Linked DNA regions of Homo sapiens: regions 2, 3 and 4 are each linked to region 1. The links come from fine-mapping of genetic effects on gene expression. A gene starts in region 1. Each other region holds a variant in brackets. All regions are shown on one strand. Distances are between the middles of the regions. Region 1 holds the start of KRT10-AS1 (KRT10 antisense RNA 1). Region 2 has its middle 21 kb from the start of KRT12. Region 3 holds the start of KRT27 (keratin 27). Region 4 overlaps KRT20 (keratin 20).

Region 1 (7,430 bases):
ACCCAGTCTCATCAAAGATAAACATCTGTGAAACTATGGTCATGGCAATCTTCATCCAGCAAGTGTGCTACTTGTCTTAAGAGGATGGGAGATTTACTAAGCACTTTTGAGGTTTTAATGAGCATACAATGAGTCCACAGTTAAAATATGCTAGGCTATTTACAAATGTAGAAACTGAAAAAAAAAATCATGATATGAATCAGAACAAAATGTTATTCAGACTGATAACAAGCCATATTCAGTACCAACATGGCAAGAAAAATAAATTTTCCAGTATGAAAATGGGACACTGCTTGCCTCTAAGGAATTTCTGAATTGTACCTATTGTGTACCAGTTCAGAGTGTATTTATTTATTAGTATTTATCATGAGTTAAACAAATGCAGGTGTGAGTCAGCCAAAGCATGGCTGAAATACATGGAAATCACATAGTCTAAAAGAGGAGGGCACACTTACAGGAATACATCTATATAATTCCAGTTAGTTTTCAGAAAGGAATAATTCGTGTACAGAAATACAAGACTGGAGAAATTCCAAGAGAACAAATAATTCAAAGTTAAGTATATGGGTAAGCCTGCAATATTTCATATTTAAAATAAAAAATTTTCCCAAGATTTTGTAAGAGAACAACATAAAAGTGCAGAGTGCATCTATGTCACTACAAAAGCCATATCTGCATCTGACCTCTTCTCAAATAACTGTGCCTCTCCCTCCAGATTCTCAACCTAACAACTGATAATGCCAACATCCTGCTTCAGATCGACAATGCCAGGCTGGCAGCTGATGACTTCAGGCTGAAGTAAGTTAAGTGATCGTTGTATAATACTATCACAACGAATACATCAGTGGTTTTTAACAATGACTTGGGATGCCCTCAATAACATTTACATTTTTCTGAATTCACCCAAAGTTAAATAGTATTGGAGTTATCTGAGAAATTTTCCATGTCAGTGTTACCTTTTTGGCAATATTAAAGGAAGAAAATGCATTTTAAAGTAACTGCTAAGGTTTTTTCCATTAAACCACTATTACTTCTAAGAGAACTGTACATGACAAATATTGCCATTACATGAGATCAACTATGTAGCTGCTTTTTAAATAGTCTCTGCCCAGATACATCTCCCCTATATAAGTTATAACCAGTATTGATATCATGCTTGTTTCAGGTATGAGAATGAGGTAGCTCTGCGCCAGAGCGTGGAGGCTGACATCAACGGCCTGCGTAGGGTGCTGGATGAGCTGACCCTGACCAAGGCTGACCTGGAGATGCAAATTGAGAGCCTGACTGAAGAGCTGGCCTATCTGAAGAAGAACCACGAGGAGGTGACACAAAAGTTATACTTTTCCCAGCCAAAAGAGAGTTCATTATGGTCCTCGTGTAGCCAATAAATCTTTCTGTTCCTCAAACAGGAAATGAAAGACCTTCGAAATGTGTCCACTGGTGATGTGAATGTGGAAATGAATGCTGCCCCGGGTGTTGATCTGACTCAACTTCTGAATAACATGAGAAGCCAATATGAACAACTTGCTGAACAAAACCGCAAAGATGCTGAAGCCTGGTTCAATGAAAAGGTAAAGTAATCTTCCTTATAGTGAAACTCATGGAGGTTTTATCATTTCAGAATTTCCTCACCCTTTTCCTTGTTTTTAATACTCTAGAGCAAGGAACTGACTACAGAAATTGATAATAACATTGAACAGATATCCAGCTATAAATCTGAGATTACTGAATTGAGACGTAATGTACAAGCTCTGGAGATAGAACTACAGTCCCAACTGGCCTTGGTATGTTAACTCTCATGAAATGACTTCAACTTTATCATACAAAGTTTCATGCTCACCTAAGAATATGCAATGCAACAAAAAAATGCAGAGTTGGAGGTAAGAAAGAGAAAACAAAGTGAAGCTCATGTTAATGGAGGAAAAGTACTACTAGTGTTGATCTAAAAGTGCTGAAACTGAAATGGTGCCATTAAACATACAACAAATTCTGTTCATTTTCTTATTCTTCTATATAATGCCTTACTAAATAATCAAATAAGCGTCACCATACTCAACTGAACAAGGAAGTCACTAAGCCACAAAAAAATCCGTTTCAGAAACAATCCCTGGAAGCCTCCTTGGCAGAAACAGAAGGTCGCTACTGTGTGCAGCTCTCACAGATTCAGGCCCAGATATCCGCTCTGGAAGAACAGTTGCAACAGATTCGAGCTGAAACCGAGTGCCAGAATACTGAATACCAACAACTCCTGGATATTAAGATCCGACTGGAGAATGAAATTCAAACCTACCGCAGCCTGCTAGAAGGAGAGGGAAGGTAAATTTTAAAATGAAAAGTTATCCCAGTTTCTTTTATTCAATATTCCAGATAGCAAGGCTTATCTAAACCCCAAGAAGATGCCAGAGAATGAGAGGAAGGGAGGAGAGAGGGTAGAGTACAGAAAAAGGAGTACGCAACCGCAATCTCACTTTCTCATGAATTTGGCCCAAAATGATTCTTAAGAGTTCTGTGAACTTAACATTGTTTTCAAAGGATGGGTTTTAAAATATATACCTGGCAGGGTTTTATTTTTTCAACACGTTTTGCTTATTTTCTAAATTAACGGCAACTGGAAAGCTACCCACCGTTTTCCAACGTTAGAGATAACCGAATGTGACCTCACCCCGTTTAGTTCCGGAGGCGGCGGACGCGGCGGCGGAAGTTTCGGCGGCGGCTACGGCGGCGGAAGCTCCGGCGGCGGAAGCTCCGGCGGCGGCCACGGCGGCGGCCACGGCGGCAGTTCCGGCGGCGGCTACGGAGGCGGAAGCTCCGGCGGCGGAAGCTCCGGCGGCGGCTACGGGGGCGGAAGCTCCAGCGGCGGCCACGGCGGCAGTTCCAGCGGCGGCTACGGTGGTGGCAGTTCCGGCGGCGGCGGCGGCGGCTACGGGGGCGGCAGCTCCGGCGGCGGCAGCAGCTCCGGCGGCGGATACGGCGGCGGCAGCTCCAGCGGAGGCCACAAGTCCTCCTCTTCCGGGTCCGTGGGCGAGTCTTCATCTAAGGGACCAAGGTCAGCAGAAACTAGCTGGGGTAATCAGAATTAGTTTTAACTTCCTGTGATGGTTTTTTTGCGCTTTAAGCTCTAGAGTTGTTTTAAAAAATTAAAAATCTTAGAGACGGTTCCGTTTGCATTTGTTCACAAACTACTCTTAACACCAGCCGTGAAAAATGGCATGATCAAAATGTCATACCTTAAGCATTTTTTTGGGCTTAACAATGTAAAGTTGAAATTTCCTTCTTTTTACAATATTTGCTTGTTAATTACTAAGGATCCCTACAGACTGTTTAAAATTTTTTTTCCATCATTCACACAGATACTAACAAAACCAGAGTAATCAAGACAATTATTGAAGAGGTGGCGCCCGACGGTAGAGTTCTTTCATCTATGGTTGAATCAGAAACCAAGAAACACTACTATTAAACTGCATCAAGAGGAAAGAGTCTCCCTTCACACAGACCATTATTTACAGATGCATGGAAAACAAAGTCTCCAAGAAAACACTTCTGTCTTGATGGTCTATGGAAATAGACCTTGAAAATAAGGTGTCTACAAGGTGTTTTGTGGTTTCTGTATTTCTTCTTTTCACTTTACCAGAAAGTGTTCTTTAATGGAAAGAAAAACAACTTTCTGTTCTCATTTACTAATGAATTTCAATAAACTTTCTTACTGATGCAAACTATCCCAATTTGTCAGAATTTATCTTTACTTAAGTACATAATACTCTTTAAAATTAAAGATTAGTAACCCATAGCAGTTGAAGGTTGATGTATCCAGAAATTCGGAAGACAGAACTATTGTCATGCCTTTTCTAAGTTTTTTAATCATGTATGTTCAGACCACCGTCAGTAAATTCACTGAGTAAAGTCTGTAAATCCCCAATATTACTCTTTAAGATACACAATATGTGGAAGGCTCCCAGCTCTCTGGCTTTAAATTATTTCAATCCTGGAAATTCTGGAATATCTCAAATAAAACCCCCAAAATAATAATAATTGGAAATTTTATATTTTCTAATTACCTGACTTCTCACCTTTGCCTTTTCTTACTTTCTTCCAGTTACTATATTACTTCTTCCCAATTGTTATATAGCTTGACATATCTTCTGACACCACCCAAGTAAAATCATATCACCCCCAACAAAATTATTTGATGTCCATCAGATGAACGTGAGAAACGCTGTCAGGAAGTAGTGATGCCAGTGTAACCAAAAGGACACCACTAGGTCTCTGCCTTCCCCAACTGTGCCCAGTGATCAGGACTAAAGACCTTGTACTTTCATAGCCCAGTCACATCCCTCAGCCAATAAGAACCCAACCAACATTACTTAGTACTCTACTGGGGATCCTATGAAGGGAATAAGCTGGCGTGTCCCTTAGACTACCTTGTGTCCTCTGATGAGTTCTTGGATTACTCATGTCCACCAAGTAGCAGCTTTCCTCAGTATCCTTGATTTGAGCTCCAGATCTGAGCCCTGATCCCCATGCCATTTGTTGGCACTCCACTCTGTAGACACTACCCTCTGTACCCCAAATTGATGACAGGAGCCTTGTTTCAATGGGATGGATTTCCCTATAGTCAAGGCTTCATAACCTGCTTAGCACCAAATATTAGCACAGCCCAGAGGCTCTCCATTTTCGTTCCTGTGCCTCTAAATGCCTAAATGTCTAAATGCTCACATGCCTCTGGATATTTGTACCAGCTAACCTTGGGAGCCAGTCTTCTCAGATCCACTATTGAAGTCCCAACACGCCTCACTGCGTAGAGCCCTGAAACACTGTGAAGTCCTTACGTCGCTGTATAAGGACTCTGAACTCCTACTGTGTAAATAGTGCTATACTGCCTGCTGTTCAGAAACACCATCTTTTAAAATATGTATTATAAGGTTAACCAAATCCCCGGGACCTATTGTACTTATAATCTGAGGTTACCATTCACCTTATTCTGAAGAAATAGATTTTTTATATTCAATACCACTGATACGAGGCAAGTACACATATGTTACTATGAGATAGCAGTGCTTGCTGTTAAGTTTGTCTCTTCTACCCATTCTGCCCTCCTCCCCCAGGCCACAATCTTAGCAGTCAGAGTCCTCTATGTGGTTGGATGGTGACCCAAACTTTCATTCCTGAAAAGTCTGCATACATCGTGGTCCTGTCTTCTTACCATTTCAATCTTGCAATACCTCCTTAAACAATTATTTATATTCTCTCTGATAAAGTAAATACTTTATCTCAGATAAACAGCTGCTTTCTTGATTGGACTTGGATAACTATGGTTTGTTTTTGCTTTTTTTTTTTTTTTTTTAATGAGACAAAGTCTCACTGTGTTGCCCATGCTAGTCTTGAACTGGGCTCAAGCAATCCTCCCACCTCAGTCTCTGAGTAGCTGGGATTATAGGCACATGCCGCAGTGCCCAACACTATGGTTTAATAAAGATAATCTGTCTAAATAAGCCACTTGTCTTTAATAAGGACATTGGTATTTATAGTAAAAAAAATTACAGAATTATTTTTAAAAATTATTAAATAGCACAGGGCACTATTTTTACCAAATAAATTTGCATGTACCTATTAATCAAAAAATTCTGTATGCATTCTTACAGATTCTAAAGTCATTACAGAATCCTGCTATTTAAGCAGGGTAGTGCCTAATTAGATTGGCAGAGCCAATTCGGCACCCATGTCAAAAAATATTACACGATAAAATCCTGTTTCCCCAAAGATGTTCTCTTATGATGCTAAAGGCCTAAAAGCTTTGCACCCTAATCTTGGTGCCCATGATGGCTTGATATTTTGCTTGGGAGTGAAGAAATAGCTTTGTTAGGGTCATCTTTATCAGGGAAGTAACTCGATTAAGGTTAAATAGGATGCATCTAATATTTCTCATCTATATTGCATTTTGAGAATGGGAATTAGGGAAAGAGCTTATTCATGGTTTATGAGCATGCAACTGAAACACAGTGATCCCTGGACTTCCTATCCTGGCACTGGCATTTACAAATTATGTACCTTTGGACAAGTTACTTCAACCCTTCTGAGTCTGTTTACTTACCTATACAATAAGGGATAGCTACCTTATATGAGGTAGTTGTGGTTAAACTAAGCTTGACAATGAAAATAATGATAATAATAGCCTTTAAATCACACCGGGCATTGTTCTGAGTAAATGATGGATGGATAGATAGGTAGGTAGGTGGGTAAATGTGTGGATGGATAGATAGATAGATTAGATAGATAGATAGATAGATAGATAGATAGATAGATACAGATAGGTAGGTAGACTCAGTACATATAACATGTATATGAACTCATTTAAGCTTAGCTACTACCCTACAGTTTATTTTCAACACAGAACCATAGTTATCCTTTTAAAATGTAAGTCTAATATATTAGATCAAATTGTAAGTCTAATTATATTTGATCAAAATTCTTTGATGTCTCTCCATTTCTCTTTTGATGTTACCTTGGTTAATATTCTTTAACAAGATGGTCTTCCTTACCTCCTTCAAGCCTTTGCACAGTTGTCACTTTTTCTTTGAGACCCACTCTGATTTTCCGCTTAAAATTTTACCTGCCAATCTCCCAACTCCCCTATCTGCTCCACTTTTTTTATTATTATTATACTTTAAGTTCTAGGGTACATGTGCAGAATGTGCAGGTTTGTTACGTAGTTATACGTGTGCCATGTTGGTTGGCTGCGCCCATTAACTCGTCATTTACATTAGGTATTTCCCCTAATTCTATCCCTCCCCCAGCCCTCTACCCCACAACAGGTGTGTGATGTTCCCCACCCTGTGTCCATGTGTTCTCATTGTTCAACTCCCACCTATGAGTGAGAACATGTGGTATTTGGTTTTATGTCCTCGTGATAGTTTGCTCAGAATGATGGTTTCCAGCTTCATCCATATCCCTGAAAAGGACATGAACTCATCCTTTTTTATGGCTGCATAGTATTCCCTGGTGTATATGTGCCACAGTTTCTTAATCCAGTCTATCATTGCTGGACATTTAGGTTGGTTCCAAGACTTTGCTATTGTGAATAGTGCCACAATAAACATACGTGTGCATATGTCTTTATAGTAGCATCATTTATAATCCTTTGGATGTATACCCAGTAAAGGGATCGCTGGGTCAAATGGTATTTCTAGTTCTAGATCCTTGAGGAATTGCCACACTGTCTTCCACAATGGTTGAACTAATTTACACTCCCACCAACAGTGTAAAAGCGTTCCTATTTCTCCACATCCTCTCCAGCATTTGTTGTTTCCTGACTTTTTAATGACCGCCATTCTAACTGGTGTGAGATGGTATCTCATTGTGGTTTTGATTTGCATTTCTCTGATGACCAGTGATGTTGAGCATTTTTTCATATGTCTGTTGGCTGCATAAACGTC
Region 2 (7,921 bases), 28 kb before region 1:
TGACTCAGTAGAAAGTGATCTTCAGTTTCAACAAGCAGTCTTTTAATTCATGACGCTTTTTCTTAAGGAAATTAACCTGAGGACTTTTTCCCATACATCTAAAGAGTACTAGAAGTTGCTTTCAAAACATAGAGTAACTTGGTTTCCATGTAGTATTTATAAGAAAAAAAAATCTGTAGATATTCACTTATAAAGGCAAGCTTGGAATCCTCTAATTCGTCATTAAAGTGTGCTTTGTATGTAGGCAATCGCCTAACCATAGATACAAAACTGAGTTATCTTAAAATGGCTGATGGAACACTGGCTTTCCATGAAAATATTCAGTCTGAAAATGTAATACTCCTGCCAATCTAGATCAAAATAGAACTTGTTCTCCCTTAATAACGAGGTGTTCTATCTAAAAAACATTGTGCTCTCTCTCTTTGGTGGTCTAGCAGTTAGGAATAAAAATTAAAAATAAGTAAAATACACTTTTCTCTCAATCAAACTAATATTTACTGGTCACTATGGAAGCAAATGGGAGCGGACTAGTCAGGTATGCAAATAACCTTGCCTCGCCAGGTATAAAGTGACCTGCCACAGAAGTTTGGAAAAGGGAGGTAATATAAAGGGCTGGGATATGAGGACCACTCTTTACAGCAGAAAGGCATCTGAGCAGAGCCTTGAGGAGTACATAAAATTTCAACATATGGTATTAAATGGGAGTGGATTGGCAAGAATAGGACCAAAGAGCGTGTCCTCTGGAGTGTTTTCCCATAAAACTAAGTAATCATCACACCAGCTGAGAACCATAAGTTCCTTGACCCAGGTAGTCTGCACTTCCTTTTTAGAAGACGAATTTTTGTATCTTATTCCTCCTCAAAGGCTGGGCCAGGTATTATTGGCCATCCAGAAATAAGTCCCCAGTACTTAATGCAGCATCTGGCAGAAAATGTGGGCATGCCAAATACATGTAGGTTGAAATGATGTTTAGAAATATCACATTAGGTTTATACATTCATAACACATGATTGAAAAATTCCGGTAAACGGATTAGCTAAAATCCAATGAAAATTATTAATTAAGCCTTTCATTTGGCACAATTAAAAATAAAACCCTATGTTGATTGAATTTTTCATTTTGGATCCAATTATGCTGTCACATAGGTATAGCTGGAGTATATGAGTCACCCAAAATTCTATTAATCAAATCTAGAAATAATAATATAATAATGTGTGTTAATCATTCTAATACAGCAAATGAGACACAGAAAAACAAAACCAACAATATTGTAAATTACCCAATGATCAATCTTTGTTGGAAACAATGTCCTACTCAGCAGTGGGACAAGAGCAATACCTAAGAGTTGAACAACCCAGAAGAAAAAATATGAATCGTCAGGGAAAGTCTGCTTAGAGGGAAATAAGAATCCAAGGTGTATTGCTAGATTTTGCAATAACTAGATGTGGCAATACAGAAATGTGATTTTAATTGGAGGAGGAAGATAATTATAGCTTGCAAGCCAACTAGTTAATCTAAGTGACAAACTTTGGCCCCACACCCAAGAAAAGAGGGTGAACCCAAAATAGGAGTTTATCAAGTTTCCATTACAAATGTGTTCAAGACACCTGAGCCACCCTGAAACCAAACCCTGAAACCAAGGAGTGGTGAGGGGGGGGGGGGGGTTATAGGTTACTAATAATTAATTATTAAATTTAAATAGTTTCTATAAATTTACATATGAAAACAATAAATTCTGTGTTATATCTTTGGAAGTAGCATTATGCTGGTGATCAAGTGCAATGGGATAAAACACAGTTAGCAGGCATTCCTTAAAAAATATTCCCTAAGCTAATACTAGAAACAGAAAAAGAGAGGTCAGATTAATCCTACAGATTTAGAAGTGATCCAAGTTAAGGCAACCTACATGATAATGGAATTGAAAACCACGTCATCTAAGGAACAGTTGAATGAACTGGTGATCCATAACCTGGAAAATAAAAGACTTAGAAACACAGAGTAATCTTGTCAAATACCCAAAAGATTCTCCATCAGCAAAGCTATATTCTGTGTGGCAGATTTCAGTTAAATAGAAAGATAAGCTTTTTAATAATTAGAGCACTTCAAAGGAAGGTGAAGTGCTTCATGAGACAATGAGTTTCTCATCACTAGAAATATTTTAGTAGAGATTGGAGATATCTGATAAGGGGTTCCGTTTAGTGTTGAATATTTAACAAGAGAAGAAAGAAAGGACAGATGTCTATGAGTACCCACTGTGTAGAACACTTTGTAGAAGAACACTTTGTATGTGTTATCTAAATTGGTATTCTCAGATTTATGAATTGGATATTATTTCTCACGTGAAGATTAAAAGAGATTAAGCAATTTACCATACACCCTGTAACAGGCAATGCTGGAAGGTGAAGCCTGGCAATGACCTCTAATATCCTTTGCAAATTCTGTTCTGGTTGAAGCTATAACAGTGAATGTATTATTGGTCTAGATAATTCTATCCTGATAATTTGTCTATTTATCCAGTCTGGTATTATTTCTGTCAGAATATCCACAGACTTTTGGCCAAAGAGCATATTTAGCTTCCCCCATGACATTAAATTCAAAAGATAAATCATACTTTAGGTTCTTTCCAGCTGAATTCTGTAATTTTGATGACCAGAATTCCTAGCAACTCATTTACACTAGAAAGGGCAGAGTTTTGGGGCCGGGTACGGTGGCTCACGCCTGTAATCCCAGCACTTTGGGAGGCTGAGGCAGGCAGATCACAAGGTCAAGAGATTGAGACCATCCTGGCCAATATGGTGAAACCCCATCTCTACTAAAAATACAAAAATTAGCTGGGCGTGGTGGCACATGCCTGTAGTCCCAGCTACTTGGGAGGCTGAGGCAGGAGAATTGCTTGAACCCGGGAGACAGAGGTTACAGTGAGCTGAGATTGCACCACTGCACTCCAGCCTGGGCGACAGAGCGAGACTCCATCTCAAAAAAAAAAAAAAACAAAGAAAGAAAGGGCAGAGTTTTTATTCACATGGCTCAATTCAGGCAATTGGTTGTGGGCTTCCTGGATTAATTTTATTAAGAATAATTCTCCAGCCAGTCTGGGTTCAGCAGGAAGATGTGTTATCAATTAGTAATGTCTGACATGAGTACAGGAGAGTGGCAGCAAGAATGACTTGTGTTTGTTCTCTCTAAGCTCCACATTTCCTAAAACTATTTTTCTATTTGTAATCATCAGCTTTT[T/G]AGTGAATACGGTGAGTAAATTATTCTACCAACTAACTGTTAAAAGTAATACTTACTGCCATTTTTCCTAACACCACTCATGGAGGGTACAGGAATATATCATGAAGCAAATGAAAAGCTGCCCACAAGACTAGATTGATTATCAAAAGGGTTTTTTAAAATACAAATTTAATATAAATTTGAATTACTTCAAAAAACTTACCACAGTCCAGAATCTGTTCCTCATAGCCCTGCAGGTCCAGAAACTAGACTTCACCATGCCCAGAGGTAACCTGACACTTGATGATAGACTTACAGTGACTGTATTCACACAATGCTGATGTGCACATTAGAATGCCAGTTTACTGGCAATGAAGGACATATCTTTCCAGCTGTCTAAGGCCAACTTCCTGAGCACTCACTTTCCTGCACATTCGCCACAATGATGCTTCTAAAATGCAGAATTTTTTCAGTCATTTTTAATTATACCACATGCCTGTTCTTTATGCTAAGTTCCCTATGATACAGTTTAAATGGCTCATTCAACAGATGGTTTCCTATATTACTGATGTGAGCTCTTGAACTGTGTCTTGAACCACTCTTATTTCTGATTTCTCTCTCCTTCCAGGTACCTACCTGTGCTATCTGGCTTATTGGCTCCCTGAGTGTTCTCTTTCTCTCTCTTTTTTTTTTTTTTTTTTTTTTTTGAGATGGAGTTTTGTTCTTGTTGCCCAGGCTGGAGTGCAATGGCATGATCTTGGCTCACTGCAACCTCCACCTCCCGGGTTCAAGCGATTCTCCTGCCTCAGCCTCCCAAGTAGCTGGGATTACAGGCATGTGCCACCACGCCCAGCTAATTTTGTATTTTTACAAGAGACAGGGTTTCTCCATGTTGGCCAGGCTGGTCTTGAACTCCCAACCCCAAGTGATCCGCCCACCTCGGCCTCCCAAAGTGTTGGAATTACAGGCATGAGCCACCGCGCCTGGCCCTCTTTTTCTTTATTTCCCAGAGGAAACATTTCTGAAATACCTCTAAAGAGCTATAAAATTCTACTTGCTTCTGTTTCCCAGTATGTTCTGCACCCAACCATCTTGTCTTCATTCCACCCTTGCTTAGCTCCACACCATTCTTTTTTCTTTTATACTCACTGTGTGTGCTGCAGCAGTGCAAGACACAGATGGCTTCATTCCATCACCACCCTTTCCTTCCCTAATGGCAGACAGTCTGGCTTCTGTGCCCCTACATTGTCCAGTATATTCTTGCACCCAGATCTCCAAGGATCTTGTGGCACTATCATGCACATTAATTTCTAGTCCTCATTCTTCCTGGTCTCTATGCAGAATTTGAAACTCAAGACCCGGAAGAACCTCCTTCTGGAAACTCTACCAGGTGAATCATAATATGCTACAATCCATCCTTGGTTGCCTGAATTTTTTTCCAGACTTCCAGATCACTCCTTATTCACTTCCTTCACTGGGTACTTTTCCTCTGTGCCAAGCCTAACTGAGGGTTTCCTCACCATTCAGCCTTAAACTTCTGCTCTCCCCTTTATAAAATCCAGTTATTCTAAAGGCTTCAACTACCACCTCAATATAGGTAATTTCTGGCCTTCAGCTCTTTCCTAAATTATTTCAATTTCAGTGATCCTTTAATTTGCAAAATTGGTCATATTAAATGATGCTTAAACTATAAAGACTGAGAATGTGTATTAACTGTAATTGGTAGCTTTGAGAGAATTCATTCCCTGTTCTCAAAAGACAACAGTACTTCTAGGATCTTTTCAGAACAAACAGCTAGATTGTAAAGTAATGTTGCAGTTCTAGTCATACTTGACATCTTTAACACTGTTGGCCATCCCATCTTCTCAAAATTCTCCTCTCCACTGGCTCTCTTGAAACTTCTGTCCCCTGGTTCTCCCTTTTATCTTTCAATGTTATCTCTCAAGCCTTTTATATTCTCATTAAATATTGCAGCTCCTCAAGGTTTTATCCATGGTCCTCATCTCTACTCATTCTCCCTGAGAAATCTCATGTAGTTCATGGTTTCTCTTTGCCAGTAACTTCCAAATCACAATTTCTCTCCTAATCTCAGACCCACACTGCAGCTGCCTATGGAATATCTACATCTGAATGTTGATAGGTACCTCAGGCTCAATCTTCCTTTCCCTAAATTTGTTATCTTTCCTACAAAAACTGCTCCCCCTTTGCATTCACATATCAGTCAATAGCATTCCCCGAAGTTCAAAACTAGAAACGTCTTGTCATCTTAGATGCCCTCCATCATCAACGGGCAAACAGCCAAGTCAAATGCCACCTTATCTATGACTATCTTCCCATTCTTATCACTGCACTGACACTTTTGTGAAATTTTCATTGTTTCTTCCCCTCCCCAGACTCTTGCAAATTCTCCCATCTCATCTCCCTTTGTCCAGTTTCCCCCCAATCCATCTAGTACACTGTCAACAAAGTTATCTTTCAAAAAATTAAGGTCATGTTCCTCCCCTATTTAGCAGCTTTCAACGGTCCACTCCATGACTAAGGGATCAAGTCCAAATTCCTTAAAATGGCATTACAGGTCTTTTCTTATGTAGCACAAACCTATTTTCCAGACTTATTTGTTGGCACTCACTCACATAAACTTTATGTCCCAGCTAAACCAAACTTTTCTCAGTTCTTGAAATACGTCGTGTGTGTTTATGTCTCCTTTATACTTGCTGGTCCCTCAGCCTAGATTTTTTTTTTCCCATACAATGAATTCTAAGTCATTCTTTAAGACATCATTCAAAAGACATCTCATTAAGTCCTCCAGAAACTGGTTTCTTTTTACTGGTGCTTCATATACTTTAGATAAATCTGTATTTCCAAACTCTTCATCCTATTTTGTAATTATTTGTGCCTTGTCTCCTACCCTTTGACCCAAAAGATATGACTTCCTTGAAGGTAAAGACCACATCTTACTTATCCTTGCATCCTCAGAACCCCAGTAAAATATATGGCATATGATATATATTCAGTGAACTGTACAAAAGATAGGACAATCAGAGCCAAGATACTGTCCCTTCCCTCCAGAAGGTGAGGAAAAGAGGCCTAGAGACAACAAAGTGCTTTTCCTGCTACAGTTAATTTTAAAGTCAAGTTGTATTAATTGGAAAAATACAGAAAAATATTTTCTTCAAAATTTTTACCACCACGGTGCCTGAAATTCCACTTAGATAAAAGGTGTTTTTTGTTTTTGGTGTGTGTGTGTGTGTGTGTGTGTGTGCACATGTGTGTTTGAGACAGAGTCTCACTCTGTTGCCAGGTTGGAGTGCAATAGCACAATCTCAGCTCACTGCAACCTCCGCCTCCTGCGTTCAAGTGATTCTCCTGCCTCAGCCTCCCGAGTAGCTGGGACTACTTTTAGTAGAGACGGGGTTTCACCATGTTGGCCAGGATGGTCTCGATCTCTTGACCTCATGATCCGCCCACCTTGGCCTCCCAAAGGTGTGTTTTTTAAAAAAATGTAAATAGCTTCAGTGAATACCTCTCCAACCCTACCCACCTTTGGCAGTCAGTCAGTAAGTCACACCTTAGACTGAATTAGACTCACCAGATGGTTATCCTCCTAATACCTATTCCCACACCAGGCTGAGAAGTCTCAGTATGTAAAGAGGAGAAAACAGACAAATGGAGCAAGTCAAAGGAGGACAAACTAAACTGGAATGTGGCTTTGGGGTACCAGGCAGCAACTTCAGAACACAGGATAGCTGGCAGGGGGTGGGAGAGTGGTGCGGCAGAGAGGAAGAGGGCAGCAAAACAATGACGGAAACCTCAGCAGGTACTGGTTCCTCTACTCCTCCCCAGAGATGGGGGAAACACCCTCTCTCACACTGAGCAAAAGCGGCCCCACCTTGGCACACAGGCTTGGTTCTTCAGGGAAAGAGCTCATCATCATAGTTACTTAACTCTGTTAACTCCTGTAACTTAACTACTCTTCCCACCCACTGCCCCCATAATCTTTCCTTTTATCTAATGAGGAGACAAGCAGGAGAGAAGTGAGCTTGTTTCTGTAGTTCCAATAGATAAGGCTGCCACAGATAACTAGATCTCCTCTTATTTTATTACCAGATCCCACCTGAGATATTCTCTTTCCTCCTACCTTACCTGCAGCAGTGAACAGGCAGCAGTGAACAGAGAGAAGGATTGGAAGAAAGTCCAGAAAGCTTCTGAACAGCTAACAATATGCATGCAGGAGTGTTTTCTGCTCTGTGAAGCCTGCACCAATACATGTTAAAGAAATTGAAGCAAAAGGCTGACCATGAGAATGTACAACCATCATTTCCGATTCAGTATCTGTACTTCTAAACCACTCTTTCTCCTGGCTTTCCTATTCTGACACTTTCTTGGTCTTGACCACCTCAATATCCAATCAGTAATCAAATAATAATTATTATTCTTTCAATCAGCTTATTTTTTCTGTGTCCATGATGACATATGTAGACACTAACATTCTCCTAACCGATTCCCTTGCTCCATCTCTCCCAAACCAATTAGTATACTTCCAACAGGCTAATCTTCCTGAAGCAATACTTTTCTTGAGTCACTGCCCCTCTCAAAAGCAATCTGAAGCTCCAAATTGCTTATCAGGGGTTCTTAATTTTTTTTTTTCCTAAAGCAGCTCAAGGACACAAAATATACCCAATAGTAACAATTTATTTGCAGTGGTGCT
Region 3 (7,921 bases), 34 kb after region 1:
CATTTCTGGTGAAAAACTTCCTTGGGATATTTTCTGCTATTTAATATATTAATGAATTGTATTTGCTAATATTTTATTTAAGATTATTTCCAGAATATGTCTTTCTTCTGGTGACTGATTTCCCCTAAATTTCTCATTTTCTGTGATTGTATCTTAGTTTAATTAGGTTTTTGTCCTTTTATTTCTAATCATTTCCTAAGGTTTGTCACCTCATTTCTAAGTTTTTTTCTAATTCTGGTTTATGGGAATTTTTTTTTCTTTTATCATTTTAGCGATTTTAAGTCACTTTGAAATGGTGGGTTGTATCTTACTCAGTTTTGTAGGCATGTCTTTCCGGTATGCTTTCATTTTCTATAGGGACACTATGCTGCTCCTCATCCTTATTATCTTGTATTAACATTTCCCGGGATTTTACTTCAATCCTTTTCTTTTGCTTGGTTTTATTGCCAATTCATGTTCCTTAACTTCTAGACTGAAGTATCATTCCAGGCCGGGCGTGGTGGCTCACGCCTGTAGTCCCAACACTTTGGAAGGCCGAAGCAGGTGGGTCATTTGAGGTCAGGAGTTCGAGACCAGCCTGGCCAACATGGTGAACTCCCTTCTCCATTAAAAATACAAAAGTAGCTGGGCGTGGTGGTGCACGCCTCTAATCCCAGCTACTCAGGAGACTGAGGCAGGAGAATGACTTGAACCTGGGAGGCAGAAGTTGCAGTGAGCCAAGATCGTGCCACTGCACTCCAGCCTGGGCAATAGAGTGAGACTCCGTCTCAAAAAATAATAATAATAAAGTATAATTCCAAATAGCTTTACTAACTTCACAGAGCTCCCTTTTCTCTTGTTTTTATCTAGGATTCAAAAATACATTGGCTTGATTTCTGAAATTTCCTGTCTTTTTTTCCCTCCTCCACTTGTATCTAGACCTTCTGTTTCCTTCCTCTCTGTGACCCTCTCCTGAATAATTTTGATTCTTCCCCTAGCAGTTTCTCCTTGTCGTGGGTTGCTCTCCCAGGAGGGAACCATGGCTGGTCAGTTTTGAGAATTCACAGGATCTAGGCCGTTCCGTTCCCTTCTGAATTCATGGAGGACCCTTAGTTTAAAGTTAGAACGATTTTCTAAGTAGTTTAACCCCTGTTTTCTCCGTATCTTTATCTCTCATGCCACTTTCTTATGCAATTAAAACTACCAAGAAATCATTTTCATCTATCCCCCTGAAGTGCTCACTTTCAGAATCTCCTGTCCTCCTATGCAACATTGGCTGTTTTTTAAGCCTGCTACCCAGCTGTCATGTGGGAACACTCACTCAGTGCGCTCACATTGGAACTCCATTTCCAGGAACCTAAGTTTTCCTTTTTCATGTTTTTCTCTCTAGTGGCTTCCTGACAAAATGTGCAAAAGAGATAATTTTTTTGAGACCTTTCATGTCGGAAAAGATTTTTATTCCACCCTCACTTGTGGTTGTTAAAGTAGAGAATTTTGGTTCTCTACATAAGTCACAATTAGAAAAAAACTTAGAAATGAGGTGACAAACCTTAGGAAAGGATTAGAAATAAAAGGTTGGATATCATTTTGCGTTCACTTTTTTTTTTTTTTTAAGAGACAGCATCTCGCTCTGTCAACCAGGCTGGAGTACAGTGGTGTGATCACAGCTCACTGCAACCTCCGCCTCATGGGTTCGAGCAATTCTCTTGCCTCAGCCTCCCAAATAGCTGGGATTACAGGCACATACCACCATGGCCCAGCTAATTTTTGTATTTTTAGTAGAGACGGGGTTTCACCATGTTGGCCAGGCTGGTCTTGAACTCCTGATCTCAAGTGATCCACCTCCCTCGGCCTCCCAGAGTGCTGGGATTACAGGCGTGAGCCACTGCGCCTGGCCTGGGTTCGTATTTTGAAAGCATTCTTCACTAGAATGATGGCTTTCCTAAAATTGAATATGTGTTGGTTTTGCTCCTGACATTTTAAGTGTTTGTTTGTCGCCCCCGCCCCCAGCCATGGTTCTCTGAAAGATCCTGTGGATGTGCCTCACTGTGGATGTTTTTCATTTATCATTCATGGTTCTTGGTGGTCTCTTTGAATTTAGAAGCTCAGTTGTTTAGTTCTGAGTAGTATTTCAGAAAATATGTTTATAAAATAATTTCTTCATGATTTCTCCCTTCTCTCTTTCCAGAAGACCTACTTGATGTTGTTCTTCTTTGACCAAGTCTCTCATTTTCTTTTTCTTTTTTTTTTTTTTTTTTTTTTTTTTTTTTTTTCTGAGATGGAGTGTTACTCTGTCGCCCAGGCTGGGGTGCAGTGGCGCGATCTCGGCTCACTGCAAGCTCCGCCTCCCGGGTTCACGCCATTCTCCTACCTCAGCCGCTGGAACTACAGGCGCCCGCCACCACCGCCGGCTAATATTTTTGTATTTTTAGTAGAGACAGGGTTTCACCGTGTTAGCCAGGATGGTCTCGATCTCCTGACCTCGTGATCCGCCCACCTCGGCCTCCCAAAGTGCTGGGATTACAGGAGTGAGCCACCGCGCCCGGCCCAAGTCTCTCATTTTCTAATATTTTCTTTTATCTGTAAACAAGTTCTCTGAGAAGGAAATTCAAGGACAGAGACTTCATTCCAGCAAACAGCTAGCAAGCTGGTGAGACACAGCCTTTGGTGTAAAATGAAAATGTGTTCCAGAGAACAAAGGAAGGGAATTTGTCTTTTAGAGAAAGTTCCCACCCAGGTTCCCACTTAGGTCTGCTTATGCAAAATGCAGGATTGAAATTTACTTAGTTCTGGTTGGTTGATGTTTGCTTAGTTAGCTCTTATTAGTCAGGGCATGCAGACTTCTGATTGATCCATGTAGGTTACAGCCTATTGTTTGGTTCAGGTGGCATAAACTGGAAGCTATGAAAGTCCCAAAGTTAAGCAGATGTGCACATTTTCTGGGAACTCAGAGTAAATATGTGACCTGTAGTCAGCAAATGGTTGCTTGGTTTTAATTTGAATTTAGGCCCAGTTAGCTGCTCAGGACTCATCTTAAGAGGCTGGTTCTTTACGCCAGGCACGGTGGCTCACACCTGTAATCCCAGCACTTTGGGAGGCCGAGGCTGGCGGATCTCTTGAGGTCAGGCATTCGAGACCAATCTGGCCAACATGGTGAAACCCCATCTCTGCTAAAAATACAAAAATTAGCCAGGCATGGTGGCATGTGCTTGTAATCCCAGCTACTTGGGAGGCTGAGGCAGGAGAATTACCTGAACCTGGGAGGTGGAGGTTGCAGTGAGCCAAGATCGCGCCAGTGCACTCGAGCCTGGGTGACAGAGCAAGACTCAGTCTCAAAAAAAAAAACAGAGAGAGAGAGAGACTGGCTCTTTCAAGGCTCACATATTTATCTTTTCATCTTTTTGTTCTAATTTTGGGGAGTTTTTTTTTAAATTTATTTTCCAATTCATCTATTGAAGTTTTCTTTTGGGACTTAGTTTTTAATTCTAAGAGGTCTTTTATGTGCTTCCTGTTCAATTTTAATGATGTTCTATCCATGTTTTAAATATACAGTATTTTTGTTACTTCTGAAAGTAATAATTATAGGTAGTTTCTTTTTTAAAGTTTTCTTCAACGTTCTTCATTATCTCTGTTTCCCCTGAGTGCTATTTTTTGTTTGTTTGAGTCTCTGTCTTTCTTGTTGGAGTGTTTTTCAATGTATCGTGATATTTTAAATTATGTTCGTTTTGAGTAAGACCTTAAACATTTGAAAGCTTTGTGTGAAGTGTCTGTGTTTCCTTCCAGAGTGGTTGTACAGTGAGCTCCCTTTTTGTGGAGAACACTCAAACAATTCTATCTGGAGGTATTTTCTCTGAGATTCTTCAGCTTCCTCAGAGAGACCCAACAATTCGGGCTGGCTACATAATTTACAAGGCCCAGTGCAAAATGAAAATGTGAGGTCTCCTGTTGAAAAGTCAGAAAAAAAGTTCAGTTAGAAATATTAAAATAGGTCCAGCGCGGTGGCTCAAGTCTATAATCCCAACACTTTGGGAGACCAAGGTGGGTGGTCTGAGGTCAGGAGTTTGAGACCAGCCTGGCCAACATGGTGAAACCCCGTCTTTACTAAAAATACAAAAATTAGCCGGGCATGGTGGCAGGCACCTGTAATCCCACCTACTTGGGAGGCTGAGGCAGGAGAATCACTTGAACTCGGGAGGCAGAGGTTGCAGTGAGCCGAGATGGCACCACTGCACTCCAGCCTGGGCGACAGAGCGAGACTCCATCTCAAAAAAAAAAAAAAAGAAATAGTAAAATATAAATCTTTTTCTTCTAAAAAGTCTTATTATTTATAACATGTAATGAGGTAACGGGTACACATATATAACAGCATAAACTACAAACAGCAAAGAAATAATGTTTTGGTGTCCTAATTTTATGTAAAACAATAAACCATAATACTTTAATAATGTATTAAATTGATTGACAAATCTTTCTGGCTTTTTTTCCGCAAGCTCATTTATTAAGTCATGAAAATTTATATTTTTGCCAACTTCATTTTCAATCTAGGTAATTGAAAGTGATGTCAATCATTCTTGGCAAATGCAAGATCTCAAATGATTTGTTATAATTTTTAGTCTGAAGAAGAAAACCAGGTGGAAAGAATAACATGAACAAAGGCAAAGAGATGGGAAAGAGGGAAGTAGTAAAACAGAACGGACAAGTCAGTGCGGGAAAATTTACATTAAGACAGTGAGGTGGCTCCTGCCTATAATCCCAGCACTTTGGGAGGCCAAGGTGGGAGGATCTGTCGAGCCCAGGCATTCAAGACCAGCCTGGACAACATGGCAAACCCCAACTCTACAAAAAAATACACAGATTAGCCAGGCATAGTGGCGTGTGCCTGTAGTCCCAGATATTTGGTAGGCTGAGGTGGGAGGATCACTTGAGCCTGGGAGGTTGAGGCTGCAGTGAGCTGTGATCATGTCACTGCACTCTGGCCTGGGTGACAAAACGAGACCCTGTCAAAAAAAAAAAAAAAA[G/AG]AGAGAGAGTCGTAAATACCAAGCACAAAACTATAAGAAATGACAAAGGTAGGGCACAGGAGCTATAAGTGGAAGAGAAAAGGGGAGCAACATGAGATGTAGAAAATTTCTTAGAAAGCAACTGTCTGAAACTCGATCAGACTCATCAGACTGAGGTTGTCAGTATTGAATGTAACCAAGAGGGTATAGGGGAAAAAATAAAAGAAATGATGATTAGAGATGTGCAGTGATGTCTGAGAGGTTAATTTCAGTAAAATAGTGGGACCACAATTCAGAAATAAGAGGTGAAAAGTACAAGAAGCAATGCAGAAAAGTGCTATGGAAATGGACAGCCAATAGAAGGAATGCAGAAATATGAGCAATCTACAGACAGAAAGTGAATATAGAGACCACAGTCTAGACCCTTCACTTTACAGATGTGGAAACTGAGGCCCGAGGAGGTGACCAATTCCTTTACTTAACCTGGTTAGCAATGGAACTTAGACAGAAAACCAGTACAGATGAAATGGTAATTCAGGAAGGATAAGGATCAAAGGAACACTTTCTGTCTCCAAAGAAGATTCCCTTTAATGCCTCAGTTTTCCTTTAGGACCTCCCCTCCTTCTTCTGATACTATGATACTTCATTGCTGAAGAAAATGCAATGCTGATTTGAGCAAGGGAAAGAGAAATCTGTCTATCATACTTTTTTATTCTTATAGGTATTATGCATTCCTGAAGCCTGGAAGACAGGAAGAGTTACTCATACTAAATTTGAAATGCATCACTATAATAATCCTGATAATACTCCACCCTGTCCAACTCCAGAGATAACAAATAACCCCACAATAACTATCCACCTACAGAAATGGACACAGTATGGTAAAGCCATTCATTAAAAAAAAAAAAAAATCACCCCATTATGGATAATTCACAATGAGCTGGCAAACATCATTTGGCTATGAGCAAAGCTCATCAAGAAACACCCTAATAATGTGTATATAAAGGCAAACCAAGCTGTTTGAGTAGGCCGTTCACCATCAGAGCATCACCGCAGAAACAAAGGCTCCAGCCTCCGGACACCATGTCTGTGCGCTTTTCTTCTACCTCCAGGAGACTTGGCTCTTGCGGGGGCACTGGCTCTGTGAGGCTCTCTAGTGGGGGAGCAGGCTTTGGGGCTGGAAACACATGCGGTGTGCCAGGCATTGGAAGTGGCTTCTCTTGTGCTTTTGGGGGCAGCTCATCTGCAGGAGGCTATGGCGGAGGTCTGGGCGGGGGAAGTGCTTCCTGTGCTGCCTTCACAGGGAATGAGCACGGCCTCCTCTCTGGCAATGAGAAGGTGACCATGCAGAACCTCAACGACCGCTTGGCCTCCTACCTGGAGAATGTTCGAGCCCTAGAGGAGGCCAACGCTGACTTGGAGCAGAAGATCAAGGGGTGGTATGAGAAATTTGGACCTGGTTCTTGCCGTGGCCTTGATCATGATTACAGCAGATATTTCCCAATTATTGACGAACTTAAGAACCAGGTAAGAAACGCCATGGCGTGAGTGTTAGCACTCCTGAGAGTGTTTAGCCACTCACAGATGCACAAATGTATAAGCTATCACAATAACAGGGCTTTGCCCTCAGCTTCTAAATTTTAGGAGTTCATTTTCAATATTAAAAATAATTTCTAATAAATTCTAATATTTGAACATGGCACGTCCATCATGTAGTATTAGGTATATGCTTTTGGTAATATTAAAATATCAAAAGCTGTCCAGTGTCTCCAGTTATATATTTATAGGCTTTCCCATAGAAAGAGCTTTTTTTAATGCTTGGGGTGGGAAATACAAGAGACCATACCCAGCCAGGCACAGTGGTTCAGCCTGTAATCCCAGCACTTTGGGAGGCCAAGGCAGGTGGATCACTTGAGATTAGGGGTTCAAGACCAGCCTGGCCAACATGGTGAAACCCTGTTTCTACTAAAACTACAAAAGTTAGCCGAGCGTGGTGGCACATGCCTGTAATCCCAGCTACTTGGGAGGCTGAGGCAGGAGAATCACTTGAATCTGGGAGGTGGAGGTTGCAGTGAGCCAAGATCGTGCCACTGCACTCCAGCCTGGGCAACAGAGCGAGACTCGGTCTCAAAATAAAAGACAGAGAGAGAGACCATACTTAAATTACCCATCTTCAAAAGAATGGTCTGATTATTAGAGACAGATGCCAGAAATATTACTATAATTTCATGGGTAATTTTATTTCAAGGAACTTTGAAATGCATCTTAAATATTTCCTCAATCTTAACTAACTTTTCATTTGTCAGATAATTTCTGCAACTACCAGTAATGCCCATGTTGTCCTGCAAAATGATAATGCAAGACTAACAGCTGATGACTTCAGACTAAAGTAAGTAGAGCTGAAGATAAATGGGAAAAAAAAGTTGTCTAAGCATTTTTTCTCCTTTATTCTTCTAAGTTATTTGACGTTGTCTCAAGCCTTTGTTCTTGTTTATTCATGTATTTGTTTTAAACAAAATGCCTGTTAGAATGAGTAACTAGCTGAGCAACAAATTTTACTTGGGAAATTTCGGGACTAACAAAAACGAGTGTCAAAGTCATATGAGAAAGAATTTTGGCTATTCCCATTCTCTTGCTTCAATGAAATGTATTTATTGCATGATAGATGACCTAACTGAAATGTGTTTTTTTAATTAATTAATTTATTTATTTATTTATTTATTTTTTGGAGACGGAGTCTCGCTCTGTCGCCCAGGCTGGAGTGCAGTGGCGCAATCTCGGCTCACTGCAAGCTCCGCCTCCTAGGTTCACGCCATTCTCCCGCCTCAGCCTCCCGAGTAGCTGGGACTACAGGCGCCCACCACTGCGCCCGGCTAATTTTTTGTATTTTTTAATAGAGACGGGGTTTCACCGTGATCTCGATCTCCTGACCTCGTGATCCGCCC
Region 4 (7,921 bases), 58 kb before region 1:
CCGAACAACTGATTATAATTAAAGGACAGAGAGAAATCGAGGAAAGGGCAATGTACTGCATGAATGCAGAGGAAAGAGTAAATCTGGAAGATTTCACAGGGAAAGTGGCATTTAAACCAGATCTTCTTGTAACTTTTAAGTTCAGGAGTACATGTGCAGATTTATGATGTAGTTAAACTTGTGTCATGGGGATTTGTTGTACAGGTTATTTCATCACTCAGGTATTAAACCTAATACCCATTGGTTATTTTTCCTGATCCTCTCCCTCCTCCTACCCTCCACCCTCTGTTAGGCCCCCATGTCTGCTATTCCCCTGTATGTGTCCATTATACCAGATCTCAAAATCTAAGATAAAATTTTAAGATGGAGAATGGACTAGAGACATTCCAGGCCAAGCAAATCAGCAAGCCCATGACAAATTATGTTGTGGTAAGCAGAATCCCTCAAACCACAGTGGCCTGCAGCCATGATACTACATCCACCGTGACATTTCCTTTCCAAGGGCAAGGCTAAAGGGGTAGGCCCTACCTAGGACATGCCAGTGTCCTGGCAGAAAGAAAAGAGCAATGGTTGGTCCACTTGATAGCTCTTAAAGCTTCTCCTTAGAAAAGGCATTTGTCCTTTGGGAGGCCAAGGCAGGAGGATCATTTGAGGTCAGGAGGTTGAGACCAGCTGGCCAATATGGTGAAACCCCATCTCTACTAAAGATACAAAAATAAGCTGGGCATGGTGGTGTGTGCCTGTAATCCCAGCTACTTGGGAGGTTGAGGCAGGAGAATCGCTTGAACCCAGGAGGCAGAGGTTGCAGTGAGCTGCGATCACATTACTGCACTCCAGCCTGGGCGACAGAGCAAGACTCCGTCCCAAAAAAAAAAAGAAAAAGAAAAGGCATTTGTCAGTTTGACCTGCATTTTATTAACCAAAGAGAGTCACATGACCCAGCCAGGTGTCAATGGATTAAAGGAATCTAATCCTGCAATTGAGAAATGCCACAGATCACATGGCCAGGTCTGATGAAGGAGTGAGAGGTATAACATCTTCACACAGTGGGGAAGCAAGTACTGAGAACAATGCTACAATGCGCCGCACTGAAAGAACAGTAGGTGCAAAGCTACAAGCAAAGAAAAACCCCAAGAGCTAATGATCCTAGCTGGCTGGCTGAGGTTGCCTAGTTGGGAAGAGTGGGAGATGGAGCTAGAAATATACACCATGCCCACAGTGATGAACTGCAGAGACCCTTCTCAAAGGAAATTAAAATTAACCCATCTCTTGAATCAAGTCCTCACATAAGAAGTGCCCTATTTTTCTTGTGCTCATAGAAAGAGTCTTTGGAGCACACTCTAGAGGAGACCAAGGCCCGTTACAGCAGCCAGTTAGCCAACCTCCAGTCGCTGTTGAGCTCTCTGGAGGCCCAACTGATGCAGATTCGGAGTAACATGGAACGCCAGAACAACGAATACCATATCCTTCTTGACATAAAGACTCGACTTGAACAGGAAATTGCTACTTACCGCCGCCTTCTGGAAGGAGAAGACGTAAAGTAAGGCTCTTAGAATCAAGGAATAGGTGTCAATATCTGTATGCACTTCTATTTTAATGTCCCTGTCACTCATTACCCAGCACCAATGCAATCCCTAGGACAGAAGCAATTATACTCACACATGCCTCACCACGAACAACAAAACGAAAATATACCAAAAAATACACACACGCCCAAAATATCAAGTACAGCCTTGAGATCATGTGGTAGGACTGAGTTCTACCACATGATCATTTGGAGATAATTCTCCAAATGATATAGATTATGCTGATATTAATTTTCATCATTAATATATAATTGAAGGCATAATAACCTTTTGGAAATTCTAATTGAGAGCTCATGAATTAGACAATAAGCTGCTGAGGTCCACGGGAGCCAGTCTGAGAATCATAAGTGTGGCAGCAGCAACTGTCTTCAGATACCATACCTAAGAATATCAACAAGAGAACACAAGATTTAAACTTCCATTGTAATTTTGTTATTTTAATTAGAGGAACTTCTTAGCATATATTAAACTGGTCAGTTTTAAATCTATGTATTTTTCAAGTTAAAAAGTAAAATGCTCAAGTTTGCAATAAAAGCAATGTAAAAGGGAAAGATATATGAAAGCAATAACACATTCACTTGGACTTTGAAATATAAAAGACAGGAGTGCATTCCATTTTCAAAACAGCAATAATGCTTTTTTCTGTTTCTTTTTTCTTCTTTTCATTAAAAAAAAAAACAGAACTACAGAATATCAGTTAAGCACCCTGGAAGAGAGAGGTAAGTTCTAAATTTTTGCACATTTTCTATGACATTCAGCTGCTTTCTATTAACTACATGCCACTGATAAAAAGTAAAGTGAGGCTGTTTTAGTCTGTTTTCTGCTGCTGTGACAGAATACCTGAGACTGGATAATTTACAAACAATAGACGTTTACTTGGCTCACAGTTCTGGAGGCCAGAAAGTCCAATATCAAGGTGCCGGCATCTTGTAAGGGCCTTCTTGCTGTGTCATCCCATGGCAGAAAGTAGAAGTGCAAAAGAGTGTCCATGAGAACCAGAGAGCAAGAGGAGGCTAATCTTTCTTTTAGAACTAGCCCACTCTCACAATAACTAACCCATTATCATGGTAACCACATTAATCCATCCATGAGAGAAGAGCCCTCATCATCTAATCACCTTTTACTAGGCCGCACCTCCCAACACTGTTACATTGGGGATTAAGTTTTCCACACATGAACTCCAGGGAACACATTCAAACCATAGCAAAGGCCAATTCTCAAGGGAGCAGATATGACACCAGGGATTCTAAAAATCTTGTACATGGCATAAAGAAACCCTCCACATGGGAACTTGGGCACACTCCTCAGAATGGGGTGATTTTCTTGGCCTGTGCTATTGCTATCTTGAAACATCCTGACATCCTGAAAAGGAAAAACAAGACAAAATTTGAATTCCACTTAAATTCAAGATAATTTATTTCTTGAATTTTTAAGAGTAGGACATTTGTAAATTTGGGGAGAAGCACATTTTCTGCATCTATTTATAAAATGGACTTAAGATTTTTTGAGAAAGAGGATGGGTTTAACATATTTTTCTAAAAGAAGGAAATAAGTAAAAAGAATAATAATTTAAAGTTGAATATTATAAATCAGCAGAGTCATGTGCCTGAATTAACATTTAATGTTTAATATGAATTCAGATATAAAGAAAACCAGGAAGATTAAGACAGTCGTGCAAGAAGTAGTGGATGGCAAGGTCGTGTCATCTGAAGTCAAAGAGGTGGAAGAAAATATCTAAATAGCTACCAGAAGGAGATGCTGCTGAGGTTTTGAAAGAAATTTGGCTATAATCTTATCTTTGCTCCCTGCAAGAAATCAGCCATAAGAAAGCACTATTAATACTCTGCAGTGATTAGAAGGGGTGGGGTGGCGGGAATCCTATTTATCAGACTCTGTAATTGAATATAAATGTTTTACTCAGAGGAGCTGCAAATTGCCTGCAAAAATGAAATCCAGTGAGCACTAGAATATTTAAAACATCATTACTGCCATCTTTATCATGAAGCACATCAATTACAAGCTGTAGACCACCTAATATCAATTTGTAGGTAATGTTCCTGAAAATTGCAATACATTTCAATTATACTAAACCTCACAAAGTAGAGGAATCCATGTAAATTGCAAATAAACCACTTTCTAATTTTTTCCTGTTTCTGAATTGTAAAACCCCCTTTGGGAGTCCCTGGTTTCTTATTGAGCCAATTTCTGGGTTAATCTTATTGATTTTTCAGCATCAGTACAACTCTACAACCTTTGAGCTATATCTGCTTTTTCCCATTGCTTCCACTGCCTTTTAAAACTCAACACAGCTTTTTGAATAATTTGAGAGTCAAATTCAATCACAAATGCTGAGCAGAATAAGAGTGAAGTACACTATACTTAAAATGGAAATAGATTAAAAACAACATTACTGAAACCCTTC[T/G]CAAGGCAAAATGTGTCTCCTTTTGATAATAAGCTGCATATACTATCAGGTCCTCTCTTTCTTTATATGGTGAACATATATTTTTAATGAAATGTCTCTCATTTTTTTAATAACAGATTTATTGAGATATAATTCACACACCATGAAATTCACCCTTACAAAACGTACAATTCAGTGGTCTTCAGTATGCTTACAATGTTTTGCAACCATCACCACTATCTAGTTTTAGAACACTTCATCACCCCAAAAGGAAATCTTGTACCTATTAGTAGTCACCGCCTTTTCCCTTCCTCCCAGCCCCTAACAACCACTAATCTACTTCCTGTCTCTACGGATTTGCCTACTCTGGACATTTCATATAAATAGGTTAATACGATGTGTCCTTTTATACACAAATGTTCATAGCAGCATTACTCATAAAAGCCCCAAAGCGAAACACCTCAAGTGTCCATCAACCGATGAATGGATAAACAAAATGTAATATATCCACACAATAGAATCTTATTCGTCAATAAAAAGGAATGAAGTACTGATACATGCTATAACAGAGATGAACTTCGAAAACATGCTAAGTGAAAGAAGCCAAATCCAAAAACAATAAAAACACATATTGTATCCTCACCCTTTTTGCATTTTAGTGAGCAATCATTGCATATGAATGTTTATGGGAAAAATCAATGTGTGCTAAATCATTGTATTCCAGTAAATAGATTGGACTTAAAACTTGATACAGAAGTTGCAAATAAGTGGGATTGAGTTTGATTATTATATAGAAAATAATTACATGATTCATTTAAGAATAATAATATCCACCATTTATTGAGCACTTACTATGAGCCTGTGTGCCAAACATTTCATGCATTTCTCATTTAATTCTCACAATAATCCTGTGAGGTAGAAGCTATTAGGTTGAATCATATGAACTTGCCAATATATGATAATTTCTAAGAGTTGGGAATTTTTGAGGATGTGAATGGTACCACTTTGAATTCCTAAGATGTAATATAATATCTAACACATAGCAGGCACTTGATTCATTATTTTAAATTGAAAGAATAAAGATTTTTTTAAAGCTTTCCAATATATGATAATTTCTGACTTTCAGAAATAGCAATTTTATATGCTATTATATAGCATATATAATAAGGTTCAACCTTATTATGTTACCCCCACTTTACATATGAGGATAAATGAGGACTCATATGAAGACATGAGATAAAGACTTTCCCAAAGTCAAGCAGTTACCAAGTAGTAGAGCGAGACTGAACCTCAGCGCTGTTTCTCTAAAACCAGGACACCCTCATAAGCAACTAATTACATAACAAAGCAATACATGATTCACAGTTGAAATAGGCACTTGCCTATCCGCAGTTATTTTGTTGTTTTCTAATTGTCATTTTCATCAGCCAGACACAACAGCCAATTGTGGCAAATGTCCAGCTTTGCTGGCTAACATCACACATGACTTGATTCAGTACAACTTTTGTCAGAAAAGGTATTCTCACCTATTCTCATTGCCTTCTTTTCCAAAGTGAAAAGATTTCACTCATTTTTTTCTTAATTTTCTTCCAAGTCACGCTAGCTAGTAAGTTGCATTTAAAGATGTTAAGAATATTTAAAAGTGAATTCTTTTTCACCTACTGAGACACATTCCAGAATAGTCTGAAACTTTGACATGCAAATACCAGACTGTGAATCTGATTAATAAGAAACCTATGCAGATGGGTTTGTAACTGATTAGGCCTGACCACTGTTATATGGCAATGATGACACTGTGTTAAAAGAGGTAGGATTGTTATTCTTAATTTAGGATGGTCCTCTTTTAACTACCTGTTAAAAGAAGTAGAATTGTTATTTTTAGATCAGAAAAATGAAGATTTTTTCTTCCTCTTGCTTCTTTGGTCTGTCTCTAGTTTCTTCCAAGCAATCTTTCAAAGAAGTGAGTGAGAGCTACATACATGTGGACCAGATGGTGGAGTTCTACCTCCAGTTCTGCCAGCAGTTACTGTGTGAAAGTGAAGCATTAATCTTTGTATCTATCTATATTTCTGATATGAGCTAAGAACTAGAATGACATAATCCTATTTCTGACAGGTAAACAGATCCAGAGAGAAGTCTTTATCACACATTAGAATTATCATCAATGTATTTTTTCATTTTATATGAAATTGTCAGTGCAGAAGTGAAGCTATCAAACTCAGAGAGAGCCCCTAGAGGTGAGGTTAGGATGGAAATAACTATTTTTTCTGAGCTCTGGAGATTATTTCTACCCAGAGTTCTGAATCATCTAAAAAGGAGAATGACATGGAGTGATACAAAATCAAAACATGGCCAGTGACCTCCTCAGACACTCTGTTCTCATCCACATGCATCAGGATCAGCCTCAGGTACCTGATTAGACCCCCAAGTAACAATTCCAACTTAAAGCATTAGTAGTGATTTTTATTTTTGAATTCTCTTTCAAACATCTCTGTTTTCTCTCCCCTAGGCTCATTTCCAAGATTCCTCTCATCAGGGTATTATTTTATCATCTTCCTGTCTCCTACCACTTTCAAAATTCTCCCCTGCTTTCAAGAACCATTGATCTCTGGAGCCCAGAAGTCAATCTCACTCATACCCCTTAGGGTCCTTGTTTAACCCTCATCTCAAAAGCACAATACATAAAATGTAGGCAACCCAAAATTCTCTCAGTCACTCACAGGATTTTATAATGTTATCCAAAGTGAAAGATGTTACAGATCAAGGGATCAGCGAGTTGCAGAAAATGACAGGTCTGTCTTACGGGAAAAAACTCAGGTAGAAAACCCTGCAAAGACCAGGACAGAAACCAACCTGACATGAAAAGATGAGGGTATGATTTACTCAATAAAAATCTAAAGACTTGTAAAAACCACATAACTAATTTTCTCTATTTTGAACATTTCCTAAACTCTACAAAAATGGAAGATATAATTCTTTTGAACAGTTTGCCCTGGCTATAATCATTTTCCTCTCTGCCTCAACTTATGCAATCACTCTGCCAACAAGCCCAAGATTGTTTATTGTTTTTTACATCACCACTGCCTTATACATTAATGTGGCTGTCAAAGAAAATTATTTTCACTTCTAAAACCTCTAAAGCAGAGTCTTGATTATTTAACTTAGCCTCCCACTTAAAAAAAAAAAAGCCACTGAAGAAGAAATATTTCCCTTTTCAACTTCTGAAGTTGCTCCCCATTCATAACTGAATTCAGAATAAATATTGGTCAAAGCATACCAGTAAATTAGGGCACAGTCATTTTCAAATGAAATGAATTTCAAATGACACATTCAAACACATTAAGACTTAACTTCTTTCAAATGAAATCATTCAAGGAGTGCAGTGATAAAGTTCAGCGAAACACTAGGCTAGGACTCAGGATAAAAAATAAATTAGATGTAGTACCTACCTAACAAGCTTAGTCTAGGATAATATGTTATATGTATAGAAACATAAACAAATAATATATAAACATAATTTTTAGAGATTGAGCAATATTATTTAAATTTTACCATAGGCATTAGAGTTGGAAAGTGTACCTTTCAGCACAAAATCAATTCCAAGTTCAAAAATTCAACTTAATCATATTCCCGTATTATGTGATCAAATCACTGAGGTACAATTTTGAACTTGGCACATTTCTTTTGACATTTTATTTGCTTCTGTTTTCATTTCTATGGCAGTAAAATGGAATCTCTCTGTCTTGGGGGACACTTGGGAGTGAATAATAGTTAACAACCATAACATCAAGTTCTTGTGTGGGGAGTGCAAGTTTAACTTGTGCTTTATAAGATCTCTGGAGATGTAGTTACAGGTCAAAGCTAAAATGAAAACCGCATTTGCCTGTGTGTTTACAGAATTTCATGTGTCATGTTGTTGCTTATAAGCCATGAA

The links. PIP is the estimated chance that this variant, and not a neighbour inherited with it, causes the effect.
Region 2: its variant is fine-mapped to the expression of KRT10-AS1 in whole blood (TOPMed, PIP 0.92).
Region 3: its variant is fine-mapped to the expression of KRT10-AS1 in naive CD8 T cells (Schmiedel 2018, PIP 0.95).
Region 4: its variant is fine-mapped to the expression of KRT10-AS1 in whole blood (TOPMed, PIP above 0.99).

The regions. Positions count from the first base shown.
Region 1 is chr17:40,814,403-40,821,832 of GRCh38, reverse strand. KRT10-AS1 (KRT10 antisense RNA 1) reads right to left here and starts at 2,688. Exons shown (of 3, transcript NR_160888.1): 1 at 2,625-2,688. KRT10 (keratin 10) reads left to right here. Exons shown (of 8, transcript NM_000421.5): 2 at 716-798; 3 at 1,166-1,322; 4 at 1,410-1,571; 5 at 1,659-1,784; 6 at 2,099-2,316; 7 at 2,672-3,046; 8 at 3,351-3,716. The coding sequence ends at 3,357. RefSeq lists an enhancer at 979-2,178.
Region 2 is chr17:40,842,565-40,850,485 of GRCh38, reverse strand. No RefSeq gene overlaps it. Among named protein-coding and RNA genes, the nearest start is that of KRT12, 21 kb to the left of the region's middle. The variant T/G (reference allele first, on the strand shown) is at 3,235.
Region 3 is chr17:40,780,632-40,788,552 of GRCh38, reverse strand. KRT27 (keratin 27) reads left to right here and starts at 6,003. Exons shown (of 8, transcript NM_181537.4): 1 at 6,003-6,503; 2 at 7,283-7,365. The coding sequence starts at 6,060. The variant G/AG (reference allele first, on the strand shown) is at 4,998.
Region 4 is chr17:40,871,764-40,879,684 of GRCh38, reverse strand. It overlaps KRT20 (keratin 20), which reads left to right. Exons shown (of 8, transcript NM_019010.3): 6 at 1,320-1,540; 7 at 2,268-2,305; 8 at 3,227-3,796. The coding sequence ends at 3,324. The region is part of intron 1 of LOC105371777 (a long non-coding RNA gene); the gene reads right to left. Among named protein-coding and RNA genes, the nearest start is that of KRT12, 8.5 kb to the right of the region's middle. The variant T/G (reference allele first, on the strand shown) is at 4,009.